Regions from separate parts of the Homo sapiens genome. Here regions 1 and 2 are each linked to region 3. The links come from fine-mapping of genetic effects on plasma protein levels. A gene starts in region 3. Each other region holds a variant in brackets. All regions are shown on one strand. Distances are from middle to middle. Region 1 overlaps COLEC11 (collectin subfamily member 11). Region 2 overlaps TRAPPC12 (trafficking protein particle complex subunit 12). Region 3 holds the start of COLEC11 (collectin subfamily member 11).

Region 1 (4,220 bases), 12 kb before region 3:
CAGTTAGCTATAAGTGCACCACTGCACTCCAGCCTGAGTGACAGAGCAAGATCCTGTCTCTAAAAAAAAAAAAAAAAAAAAAAAAAAAAAAAAAATCAAAGAAAAATAGTTCATAGTAACAACTGGAGGCACGGAAAGAGACCCTGAAAAGCACCACACATTACACTGTGTCCCACAAACTCTCGTTACTAAAGCAGGAGAGAAAGAATCATAAGTCATTAAAAACAGCAAGACTTTCTAAAGAAGAGGATTTAACACACGTTTTCTTTATATCTCTCAGCTAATCACAAAATCCACTTACATGCCATCTCCCAAGGGCTCTGCTTAATGGACCTGTGTCTGTAGTTGTACAGGGCCAGGCGCATTTCAGCCAGTGCTGGGCAGCAGGCACCCCAAATGCCTCACGGCTGTGCCTGCAGTGTGGGGAACCCAAACCTGGAGTCAGAAACTGCTTTCCTTCCTGTGCAAAACCCAGCGTAAGCCCTCCCAGCCTGGTCCTCCTCAGCTCTGATGGGGATTGAACAAAATATGCCCTGGAAGACACCGTGCTGGTTGTCACGAGAAAAAGTATTTTAATCCCTGGTTCAGGACCAACAGCACTGAGGACCAGAGAGTACAGAGGCCTCCCATCCACGGCGGGGCTGCCCTGGTTTCTCCACGGTCCCCGTCGCCTCCGCCTTGTAGACTTGCCCTGTCCACGCATCTTAAGAACCAAGGCTGTTTTCAAGCACTGTTCACAATTTGGCAGGGTTGTTTTTTTGTTTTGTTTTGTTTTTGTTTTTTGTTTTCCAGAGATGGGGTCTTACTCTGTTGCCCTGGGTAGACTCAAACTCCTGGGCTCAAGTCATCCTCCCACCTCGGCTTCCCAAAGTGCCGGGATCACAGGCGTGACCCACTGCACCTGGCCAATTTGGCAAGGTTTGAAGTGTTCATTGTCCACTGGTCCCAGGGGTCATAAAGATGTATGTCCCTGCAGGTAATGACTCCAGAGCAGGATTTCTATACACGTCCCCACTCAACACTCCATGCATTTTGTAATGTAGACCCAGCGAGCACAATGACATTTTTCCCACATCCTTTTCATTTTCAGGATGATTGACTACATAAAGTTCTAATGACAAGTTATTTCTCTACCAGGAGAGGCTAACATTTCAACTGCTGGCTCACTTCCACCATCACCACAACGCAGCTCTCTCCTCGCTCAAAGAAACAAAACGTGGCTGACATTTACTGTTTGCTTGGCTTCCCTGCAAATCATGTACAAATCTACGAACAAAAAGCTTTTACCTAGATCGTATTTGGGGTCATTTCCAACCCAGCTAGGAAGGCGCATGTCAGTTATTTTATTGAGAACCTAAGATACTTCGACATATTTATAGCCAGTTGAGGAAGATCCGTGGACAGTGCTTGACTGTCACGCCACCTGCTTACAAGCTGAACAAACTCGTGTGCCAGCGACTTCACATCCCTGCTGGCCACAACAAGTGCCACGGCACCCCAGGGCCATGGGAAGTCAGAGAGGAGAAAGCCAGGACCTCAGCCTGCCTGGCTTGTTCTACACAAGGGGAGACGGCACAGACAGGCCGTCAGGTGTCAGAAGAGCAAACCTCCCACAGCGCATGTTATTCAGGCCCCATTACTGGTTTTATCAATGTTGTTTTAAAGAATGGCAGTAAATGATTTTAAAATTAATTTGATAGGCCAGGTATGTTGGCTCACACCTGTAATCCCAGCACTTTGGGAAGCCAAAGCGGGTGGATTACGTGAGGTCAGGAGTTCGAGACCAGCCTGGATAACATGGTGAAACCCCGTCTCTACTAAAAATACAAAAATTAGCCGGGCGTTGATGGTGCGCGCCTATAGTCCCAGCTACTTGGGAGGCTGAGGCAGGAGAATCACTTGAACCTGAGAGGCGGAGGCTGCAGTGAGCCAAGGTCGCACCATTGCACTCCAGCCTGGGCAACAAGAGAGAAACTCCATCTCAAAAAAAAAAAAAAAGCAAAAAAAAAATTCATTTGATAAAGCCTATAAGAAGAACTATGACCTTTCATATTTCTGGGAAACACATTTGTTAATACAGATAAATGTTTTCTCACCTACAGCCATTTTTTTAACCATTAAAAAAAGACTTTTTTCCCATTAAAAGGAGTTGTCATTCTCTCTAAATGTAAAGACAATATATTATTCCCTCTAAATGTAAAGATAATATATTATTATTATCTGAAATGGCCTGGAATGGCAAATAAATGTCATCTCAAGCACCACCAGCAGTCAGCGGCAGCCTGACTCGTGTGCTCAGGAAGATTCTCCAGCCAAATGTGGAGTTGGCAGAGGTTTCAGGATCCAAAACACA[G/A]GGGGTTGTGGGGGTTGGGGGGGCGGCGCGTGCTGTGTTTCTCAGACCAGATGCCACCCCGTGTCCGGGGCCGAACGGCGGGACTGTGAGGAGACAGGCCGCGGCTTCTTCATCCCAGCCCTGAGCCTGCCTGGTGGATTCTCAACGGACGCTTGTCTAATGAATGGTGACTGCGTGTGTGTCTGTTTCCTTAGAAGCTGGCACTGTGCCGCACGCTGCCTCTCCTCTTTGACCTCCAGCGACCCTGGGGGGCTACGGCACATGCTGGGGCCGGCAGGGATGAAGTCTGCTGGCACACACCATTTTCTCCATTGAGTAACCCAATTCCTGACATGCTGGGTATCCTGAATCCTTCTAAACCGCTCCTTGCCCCTGGTGCTCGCCTCTCGCTTGCGGACTCGCGGGGCACGTGCTGGACGGACACCTGATCTGCTCCCTGGTCGGGCTCGCTGCCTGCACAGGGTTAGTGCTTTGTAAGTCACTGTCCCAGAGCAAGGAGCAGGGGCTGGGTCCCCGGTCACTGTGTGCCCACTCCTGGTGCCACCACTGCATCCCCACAGAGCCCCAAGCTGGCATCGCCTCCCCAACCTCACGGACCAGGAGGCCGAGGCTTGGGAGGACAGGTGACCCGTCACGCAGGACGGCTGACCCACAGCACCCTCAGACCTGCCCTACTTCCCAGCCTGCAAAGGTTGAGAAGGGACCCTACCCATGTGGGAAATGACAGCACATCCAGGGGACCCAGGACGTGGACAGCTGGGAAGGACCCTCCCAACAGCACCTGGGAAAGGCGGCGCCCAGAAAGGACCCTGGAGCCCACCCCACGGCCCCCACCAGTGCAGGCTACTGACCTGGCAGGGCGCAGGGAAGACAACCGTAGGGACTCGGAGGCACCCACCACATTGGGCAGGGACGTGACCTCCACAGCCAAAAGTCCAGCTCTCCACAGCCACCGTTTCCAACCTAAAGCTGAAGGTTCCACTCACAAACCCACACACGCTACCACAAAGTCAGGGCCAAAGCCACTTTCACCAAAACTTCTGAGAGAGCCGTAGGCATCCAACAGTTTAAGTTGCTTCCAACATAATTAAACATTTTCTAAAGCAGGTACATTTATCACAATTAAAAGCACAAAGGCCACTGGGCTTGTCTGGGCTGCAGGACAGTCCACTTGGTTTCCAACAGCAGGGCTAACACAGCCGGAAAAAAGCCCCCAGCCAGAGCTGCACAGCCTGGCAGGGTGGCCCCGAGCTGTCCGGACCCTGTGCCCCGGGAGAGGGCTGACCTTTTCATTTTGTACAACACGGGCTGAGCAGGGTTTGTCTTTCGTGGTGACTGTTTTGATCATGGGTTTGAATCTACTTTTCTCTAATGTTTCAATAAAAAGAGCCGCAGACGCTCCACAGGAGAAGCTGAAGGCCCAAGCGGACCGCGGATGAGGAGGGGGCGGACCGGATTCAGGTTGCAAAAGGTCAATGTGCCCCTCCCCCTCCTCAGGACCCACGTGACTCCCCTCCCCTCCTCAGCACCCACGTGACTCCCCTCCCCCTCATCAACCACGTGACTCCCCTCCCCCGCCTCCTCAGCACCCACGTGGCCGCCCCTCCCCCTCCTCAGCACCCACGTGACTCCCCTCCCCTCCTCGGCACCCACGTGACTCCCCTCCCCTCCTCGGCACCCACGTGACTCCCCTCCCCCTCCTCGGCACCCACGTGACTCCCCCGCCCCCTCCTCGGCACCCACGTGACTCCCCCGCCCCCTCCTCGGCACCCACGTGACTCCCCCGCCCCCTCCTCGGCACCCACGTGACTCCCCTCAGCGGCGGCCTGGACTCTGCTGCGGCCGGTGCAGCCCCGGCCCTGCCACC
Region 2 (4,220 bases), 160 kb after region 3:
TACGCGAGTGCTTTGCTGGGAAGACTGCTTTGTATTTATTTCCCACTGTCTCTGCCTGTCTGGGTGTGTCCTTCCCTATCCTGACCTCAGCAGGCAGGATAAGCCATGCCTTTGGTTTGCCTGTGCTCAACGCTGGGGATACTGCTTGGTGTCTGTGCCCGGCCAAGCACACAGTGTCACACTTACAGCTCTCAACAAGTCATTTTTGACTTTAATGTGGCATTGTAAATTAAAAACAAAACAAAACAAACCAAACACAAAAACAGTGAGAAAGTCCTAAGAGAAAAAAATACCTTAAATATTTCTTATTTAAATGATTTGCTTAACTAAAGCCCTGAAGCATGAAGACAAACTGAGGCTTGGGTCACTGCCTCTGTACGCGTCTGCCACAGTCATGTGCAATCCACGTGTGGCTTCAGCTACAGCCCAGTGACTGGCCAAGGCCTGTATCTTGTGCAGACAGGATAAGGAGAGGTCTCCATTTGGGTGTTCTCATGGTAGATACGGAACCCCAAACTGAAAATTCCCCTATTTTTAGTAGTTTGTTCTAAGAAAAGACTGAAAATGCCAGATTTCATAAAAACGGTGGGCAAAGTGAAAAGCAGTAAGATGAACTAACGAGCCTTCTCCGAACAAATAAAGCAGCGATCACATGTCCAACCATCAACGCTCGGGAGTTCTGATGCAAAGCATTGTGACCTGGAAATCTAAAGCAGAACGTGGTCACTCTGCAAGGTGAGGTAATTTTGTCATGAAAAATAAAATCCGACACTGGAAACATGCTGAATATTTAATTCTGAGATATCACATATGGTTATGTGTTGATAAAAAAAAGTTTCAGAATTTAATTTGAGAACTCAAAATGTGAATTTCATGATTTTGGAGGGAGGATGAAAAAGGAAGAAAGATCCAGTGACAGTGTGCCTTTATGCACATAGAGGAGCAGACAGCTGATGGAAGAGTAGAGAGATTCGGCATCCGATTAATGGAAGTGTTTGCCCCATCCACTTTAATTTGACCTGATGGTAATCCGCACGGATTAAGTTCTGAAGTACCATTTCCTGTGACGTCATTACAGCTCTTGTAACTTAGTCTAAACATGCAGATCTGAATTTAGTATTAGAAGCAGCACTATACTTCTTAAACTGCATAGTGAAGATAATCAAGCTGCTTTATTTCCAGCGGGAAGATCTTTTGGGCTCCTATTTTCCCTCTAGTTGCATGGAAACTTGAAGTGAGCAATCTAATGCAGAATGTGGTACTTTAAAAATTCAAAGCACTATGAAAGTTTACATGCTCACTGCCATTGTGAATGTTTCTTTGGAACGAGAGGGGTAATTCCAAACAACAGATTAAAAAGATGGTGGTGGGGGTCTGGAAAAATTTAACTGCCTGAGAGAGGATGAAATTAAACTTGTCAGGAATGGACATTTAATTTTCTTTAACATAGTGAATATGTACAACACAAGAGTGAACCCAAGTGTAAACTATAAACATTTGTTAATAATGCTGTACCAATACTGGTTCATCAATTGTAACAAATGTACCACACCAATGCAAGCTGTTAATATAAAATGAATGAATGTTCTAGAAATATTTTCATGGATATAATCCCTA[T/C]CAACACTTTTCATGACTGCAAACCCTATAATGGGAGAAACAATCTGCACTAGTGTAACAATTTAAAAAATAAAAAAAAAAATCTAAAAGAAAATTAAAGAAAGAAGGCTAGTACAGGGATCTGAAGAATGGCTCTCAAAAGAGAAACTTTGTAGGATTTTGGAAAGGTATTTTAAAGCCCTAACGTAAATAGTTATTATGAAGTTATCAACATTTAAGACAAACAAAAACAAAAATACTTTTAGTGCTGGGTAAAGGCTGGCATCCATGGCGACGGCGACCCTGCCGCCCTCTGGGCTGGATGATGTTTCCTGGGACCGGGATGCTCCCTGCAGATGCTGAGGTGCCAGTGAAGGCAGACGGCTGTGCTGTGGGGAGATTACAAGATTACAGAGACTGTCTGTCTACAGGGCCAAAGACTCTGTGGGATGAGATCCCGGGAGCACTCACGTTAAGTGCATCCCACTGTACTCGATGGAAGACGGCGAGGGCAGCAGGTGGCCTAGGGCCTCAAGGGTATGCCAGGAGAGAGAGCATCTTTGACAAGTGTGCACGAGGGGCTCTGCGGGCCTGCCTCAGAGCTCTTGGAAGCTCCAGGTGAAGAGCTGCAAGTCAGCAACTGTGTAGACTCTCTTCCCAACACCGCATCTCCCAGAGCTCCTCCACACCCAGCGGACGGTCCCAGCAACAGCGTGCAGAGCTCCTTCACACCCAGTGGATGGTCCCAACAACAGTGTGCAGAGCTCCTCCACACCCAGTGGACGGTCCCAGCAACAGTGTGCAGAGCTCCTCCCACACCCAGCGGAAGGTCCCAGCAACAGTGTGCAGCAGCTCCCTTAGGAAACGTTTTGGAAAGCTGTCTGGTAAATGTCTTTACTTGTCTCAGCCTACTTGGCAATGACATAGGCATGATTTCTTTGCATTTATTATTCCTGATATAACAGTATGTGGAATAAAGAAGATACTCCTAAAACATGTCATGTTGCGAACAAAAAAGGTTATGTTTGTATTTTTAAACTAGAATTATTTTTTCAGGGTTGAAAATAGTATTTCCCAGAATGGGAGAAGATATTAATATTTCCCAAATACAAAACAGATGAAGGATTAAATACCTGCTATATAGAATGAACCTCAACCAATTAATAACAAAGATAACCCAATAGAAATACAGGCCAAGATTATGAAAGAGTGAGTCACCAAAGAGGAGACTCCGACAGACAAAGGACACATAATTCGGCAGAAATCAGAAAGACGTCAGTTGCGACAGGAGGTAGAATTTTAGACTCACTGGTGAAAGTCTGACAATCTTTAGTTACACAAGAGTGGGGAAACAAACTGACAGGCTGTGGCTGGGAGTGGAAATTAGCATGGTCACTCTCACATATGCCACTTTAAATTTACAGCTCAGAGAAACGCCTGAACATGTACAAAGGGAAATGTACAAGGATGCCCATAACACCATTGCTCATAATAGCCGAAAGGTGGAAAGATCCTAATTGTTCATCCTTATGGATACGGATATGGATGGATATGAATAATGGAAAGTGGGGAAAAAAAAGCAAATGAAGACAGATATGCTCATGATGTACATTTACAAAGCTTATAAGACAATAGTCTCTCTCTGTATATGTATTTCTCTGTGTGTATGTATATGTGTGTGTATGAAGCAAATATGTAAAAACATGACCTGGAAGAATACACAACAAACCATGATTGTGACTGCCTCTGGGAGGGGACTGAATTGGGAGGAGGTTCACAGGCTGTATCAGCAATGGGTACTTTCATTTGTTACAAAAATGTCTAAGGCAAATATGAAAAAATATTTGTTAATGGTCCGAGTATTTAATATTTGTATTTAAATAAACATCAATTTTTGTTGAGCAAAGAATAGATTCAACCAGATCCCAAAACAGACTTTCTCATAAGGTACGGAAGTAGTGGGTTAGAACAAAAGTAAATAGCTTTTATTAAAAAGCTATTAGAACAGAAAAAAAAGTAAAGTAAAAGTAAACAGTAAATAGACGTGGGCAACATAGAAAAATCAAATATCTGAATTTGCACAAATCCATCTGGAAACAACAGTGACATCCTGTGCAATGCAAGAGTACTCTACCTCAACTATCTGAAGAATTCACGGATAGGGAACTTCTGTTTCAAAATCAGAGAAACGCGAATAGGAAAGGCAAATTTAAGATATACTTATCTTTTTTTCTGTCCCTGGAGATGCATGATACAGGGTATCACTATGCAAGTGAAGTTCAATTTTCAGAGATAAGACAGTGGCTAAGAGCAAGTTTTCTGCACACTATTTTTATTCTTCTTGTTTTGACATCTTCCACCAGTATGACCAACGCCGATCCTCTGAATTCCTGAAGCTGCATGACAATTCTAGACAGAACAGCTCAGTTGCCAAGTTATGTGTGAAGTCTGAGGGAGCTAAAGCCACACAGTCTTTAAGTGTGTCCTGCAGGGACACAGAGGACTTCCAGTGAATGAAAAGATGTGGACAATCTGCTCACAACCCCCAGCCAGTTGGCTTCTAAACACAAATGTGAGCTTTCAATGACTACCCCACAACCCACGAAAGGAACTCTGATAAAAGG
Region 3 (4,220 bases):
CTTCACTCCATTCATTCACTGACCCCGGAGCAGCACAGGCTGGGATTTCTTGTGCCTTCCCTCACTTCACTCATCCACTGATCCCCGGAACAGCCCAGGCTGGGATTTCTCATGCCTTCACTCGCTCCACTCATTCACTGACCCCGCTGCCCATTCACAGAGTTTCTGTCCACTTTCCTGCGAGGGGCCCCAGCTAGGCCTATGGGCACAAAGGAGGCACAGGCCCTGCAGCGGGGCGCTCTCAGACGCACAGCAGGAACCAGGGCAGGTAGGCACAGGGTGAGGGCACCCAGGCGCCCGAAGGAGTCTCTGCTTCCCAGAGGTCTCGCCCTCTGACTGCCTTCTTAGAAGAGGAATTCCATTTTGTAAACGGAGAAGCCACAGCTACCCCCAGGACCTCTTTAAGAACAACATCCTTATCTCCCAGCCAGGGCCCAAGACGCTCAGGGCCCTCCCATCAATGGAAGGGGCAGACTTGACAAGCAGGGGAGAGGGGGTTAAACGTGGAATCCTGAGAGGAAATACATGTTATGAATGAAATAAACAATGGGGCCAGGCCCAGTGGCTCATGCCTATAATCCTAGCATTTTGGGAGGCCAAGGTGGGCAGATCACCTGGTTAGGAGTTCGAGAGCAGCCTGGCCAACATGGTGAAACCCCCCTCTCCACTAAAAAGTACAAAAATTAGCCAGGTGCCATGATGCACACCTGTAATCCCAGCTACTCAGGAAGCTGAGGCAGGATAATCGCTTGAACCTGGGAGGCGGAGGTTGCAGTGAGCCAAGACGGTGCCATTGCACTCCAGCCTGGGTGACAGAGCCAGAGTCCATCTCAAAAAAAAAAAAAAAAATGAAATAGACAATGAGAAAAAATCATGGCTTCAGTTGCCAAACATGCTATTCTACTTTTTCATTAAGTATCTACAGCAAGGCCCAGCATCTTACAGGCACCACAAATACCTCCTAAGAACCACATCCCTGAAGCATGAGGAGGTTCCTCTCACTGGGGACTGCCCCAGCCCCACCGCGGTGTTTCCCTCCCTACAGTGACAGAGCACCTTCTGGGGCAGCCTGGATTCCACCCACAACAGCACACGCTCCTCTTAGCTTCTTACCAAGAGCACAGAGTAAGAAGGCACCTATCCTCTCTTATCTTCCCCCAGCGGTCAGCACATTACCGGTGTGCTCTCTTCTACGGTACATGGATTTTTCAAAATTGTAAACAAAATCGAATAGCTGTGAAAGATTGGGGCAGTGCTCTGCCTACCACAGGCAAAGTGCTTCCCATCAAACCAAAATTCCAGCTATGCACATGAGATGGCTTTAAACGTTCATCTTTAAATTGAGAACGACCACATCACCTCAGCTCTAAAAAGACCGCCAGTTCCTAGCGCAAGGCATCCAGGTAGGAGGCAGCGGCCCTAGGAAACTTTCCTCCTTTCCAATTTTGGAGACAAGATGACCCCACTTGGTTTTAGATGACCCCATCTGAACTCAAAGTCTTTCCCTGGAAAGTTGCCAAAGCAAGGCCCACCTTTCCCCCACCTCTCTGATCCCCGTTCCTGAGCCCAACACAGAGCCACTGGTCCCTGGGGGCAGTCGTGGCTGCTGTCCGCCTGGCCCGTCAGACGCTGCTCAGGCTCAGGAACAATCGTCAGGTTGTGAGACCAGGTACTGCACTGCGGTTTGGAATTAGCGAAGACTGTTTAGCCCCCTGGGCCTTGGGCTGTTTGAAATCTGCCACCCAAGAGGGTGACTCCATCATCCAGCACCTCTCATGGGTCGGATCCCATCTCATCAATAGGCTCCACGAATTTCCGCCATGAACTAATCAAACTTTGGAACTCTGGTGCCAGATTTATTGAGACTCAATCTTTTGCCTGGATCTAGGGACAGATTCCCATCCTCCTCGCTCAGCAGGAGCCCACCTCGCGCCCAGTTTGGAAGCCTGCCTGCCTCCCCTCTGCACTGTCATAGCCCCGTGAAACCCTCAGCTGCAGCCCCGGGCAGAGTCTCCTACCTGAGCACGCGCTAGGCGAACGGGGCGTCCTGCCCGTCGCTGGCCCGCGAGGACACTGCCCCCAGGCGCCTCATGGCTGCTATTTAGAGAGGCGGCCGCAGTCCCAGGCGCAGGGAGAAGCCTCGGCCCGGGCCATCAGACAGCCCAGCAAATCAGGCCGCCCGGCCGCAGCGTTATCTCGGGGAGCTTCCTGTCTGCGCTGCGTCCACCGTCCTGCCTGGGGAGTGTGGGAACGCCTGGAACTCCCTGAGGCCGGCTTTGGGGTGGGGGGCAGGACCCTCCTGGAGATGCCCCTGCTAACTCTCCAACCCGAACATCCCAATTTTGTTTCTTTTTTGGCTTTCTCTTCTTTCTTTTCGTTTTTTGAAAAAATAAGCATGACTACTGTGGAAATTCAAAAGAGCATAAAGAGGAGGGACGCTCATCACCTGGCACCAATCAGACAGAAACGAGGGCAGCTGACTGATCTCCTTTCCTTTGTTCATATGGGATTTCGCTTCAAAAGTCAGCAAGAGCTTGACCACGGCCTGTGGAGACCTGGCCACACGTGAGTCCGGAAACTCACTCTACGCATTTAAGTTTCATTTAAAGGCAAGTTTCATTTAATGCCAGAAACAAATGTTAGTCAGGGGCTGGACAGATCCAGCTTCTATGCAGCCCGAATCTTGCATGTTTTGGGGGATAGCGGAACCTTCTTTAAGAAAAAGATACATATAAAATTACAATCATAAGAAGCTAGGTTCAAAGGTGAATATTTATTTAGACTGAGAAATCATAAAATAAAACTGTAAAAACACAAATTCCACACACATAATAAAATTAAGGAAAAATAATGGATTCTTTATTTAAAACGTATTATTGAAGTTATACATAAATTTGACAACTTAGACAAAATGAACCACTTCTTGAAAACACGAACTACAACATGCCCAGCATGAAACAGATAATTCAACAGCCCTATGCCAAGGAAGGGAATTGAACTTGCAATTTAAACGCTCCCCAGAAAGACATTTCAGGGCCAGATGGTTTCACAGGAGGGTCTACAAAACGTTTAAAGAAAAATTAACACCAATTCTACACATCCTCTTCCAGAAAATAGAAGAGGAGGGAATATTTACCAATTCATTTTATAAAGTTGATTATTACCCTGATACCAAAACCAGACAAAGACAGAACAAAAACACTATAGACCAATAACCCTCATGAATATAGATGAGAAAATCCTTAATAAAATATTAACAGACAGAATTCAGCAATATAGAAAAAGATTTATCAACTATGACCAAATGGGGTTTCATCCAGGAATGTGAGGCTATGTCAATATTCAAAGCTCCTTTGATAAAAACCCATTAACAAGCTAACAAAGAAAATCAAATGAATATCTCAATTTATATAGAAACAGCATTTGGCATAAACCAACACCTTTCATGATAAAAACTCTCAGAAAAATAGGTGCAGGGGACCTTCCTCAACTTGATAAAGAGCATCTGTCAAAGGCAAAGCCACAGCTAACATCATACTTCATGGGCAAAAATGGAATGTTTCCTTCCTGAGATCAAGACAAGGCAAGGGTGTCCACTCTTACCTCTTACTCAATGCAGTGCTAAAGTTCTAGGCACACCAGCAGGGCCCGAAAAGGAAATAAACAGCATGTAGATTCGAAAAATAAAATAACTCTGTCCCTTGTTGCAGATGACATGGTTGTCTACTTAGAAAATCCCAGAGTCTACAAAAGAGCTCCTGGAAACTATTAAATCAGTGTGACAGGTGACAGGATACAAGGCAAACATTTAAAAAACCAAGTAGGCCAGGCGTGGTGGCTCACACCTGTAATCCCAGCACTTCGGGAGGCCAAGGTGGGAGGATCACCTGAGGTCAGGAGTTAGAGACCAGCCTGGCCAACAAGGCAAAACCCCATCTCTACTAAAAATACAAAAATCAGCCAGGCATGGTGGTACATGCCTGCAATCCCAGCTACTCGGGAGGCTGACGCAGGAGAATCACTTGACTCCGGGAGGCAGAGGGTGCAGTGAGTTGAGGTTGTGCCATTGCACTCCAGCCTGGGTGACAGAGCGAGACTCTGTCTCAAAAAAATAATAAACAATGAAAAACCAAGCAGATTTCTATAAAATAACAATGAACTCATAGACACCAAAATTCAAAATAATATCATTTACAATTGCTTTAAAAAAGGAATACTTA

The links. PIP is the posterior inclusion probability: the model's chance that the variant is causal. Protein levels are from the aptamer-based SomaScan assay of Sun 2018.
Region 1: its variant is fine-mapped to the plasma level of the COLEC11 protein (Sun 2018, PIP 0.95).
Region 2: its variant is fine-mapped to the plasma level of the COLEC11 protein (Sun 2018, PIP 0.95).

The regions. Positions count from the first base shown.
Region 1 is chr2:3,605,228-3,609,447 of GRCh38, reverse strand. The region is part of intron 2 of COLEC11 (collectin subfamily member 11); the gene reads right to left. Among named protein-coding and RNA genes, the nearest start is that of COLEC11, 12 kb to the right of the region's middle. The variant G/A (reference allele first, on the strand shown) is at 2,354.
Region 2 is chr2:3,429,073-3,433,292 of GRCh38, reverse strand. All of the region lies in intron 5 of TRAPPC12 (trafficking protein particle complex subunit 12), which reads right to left. Among named protein-coding and RNA genes, the nearest start is that of TRAPPC12, 51 kb to the right of the region's middle. RefSeq lists an enhancer at 2,156-2,656. The variant T/C (reference allele first, on the strand shown) is at 1,618.
Region 3 is chr2:3,592,967-3,597,186 of GRCh38, reverse strand. COLEC11 (collectin subfamily member 11) reads right to left here and starts at 2,075. Exons shown (of 7, transcript NM_024027.5): 1 at 2,019-2,075.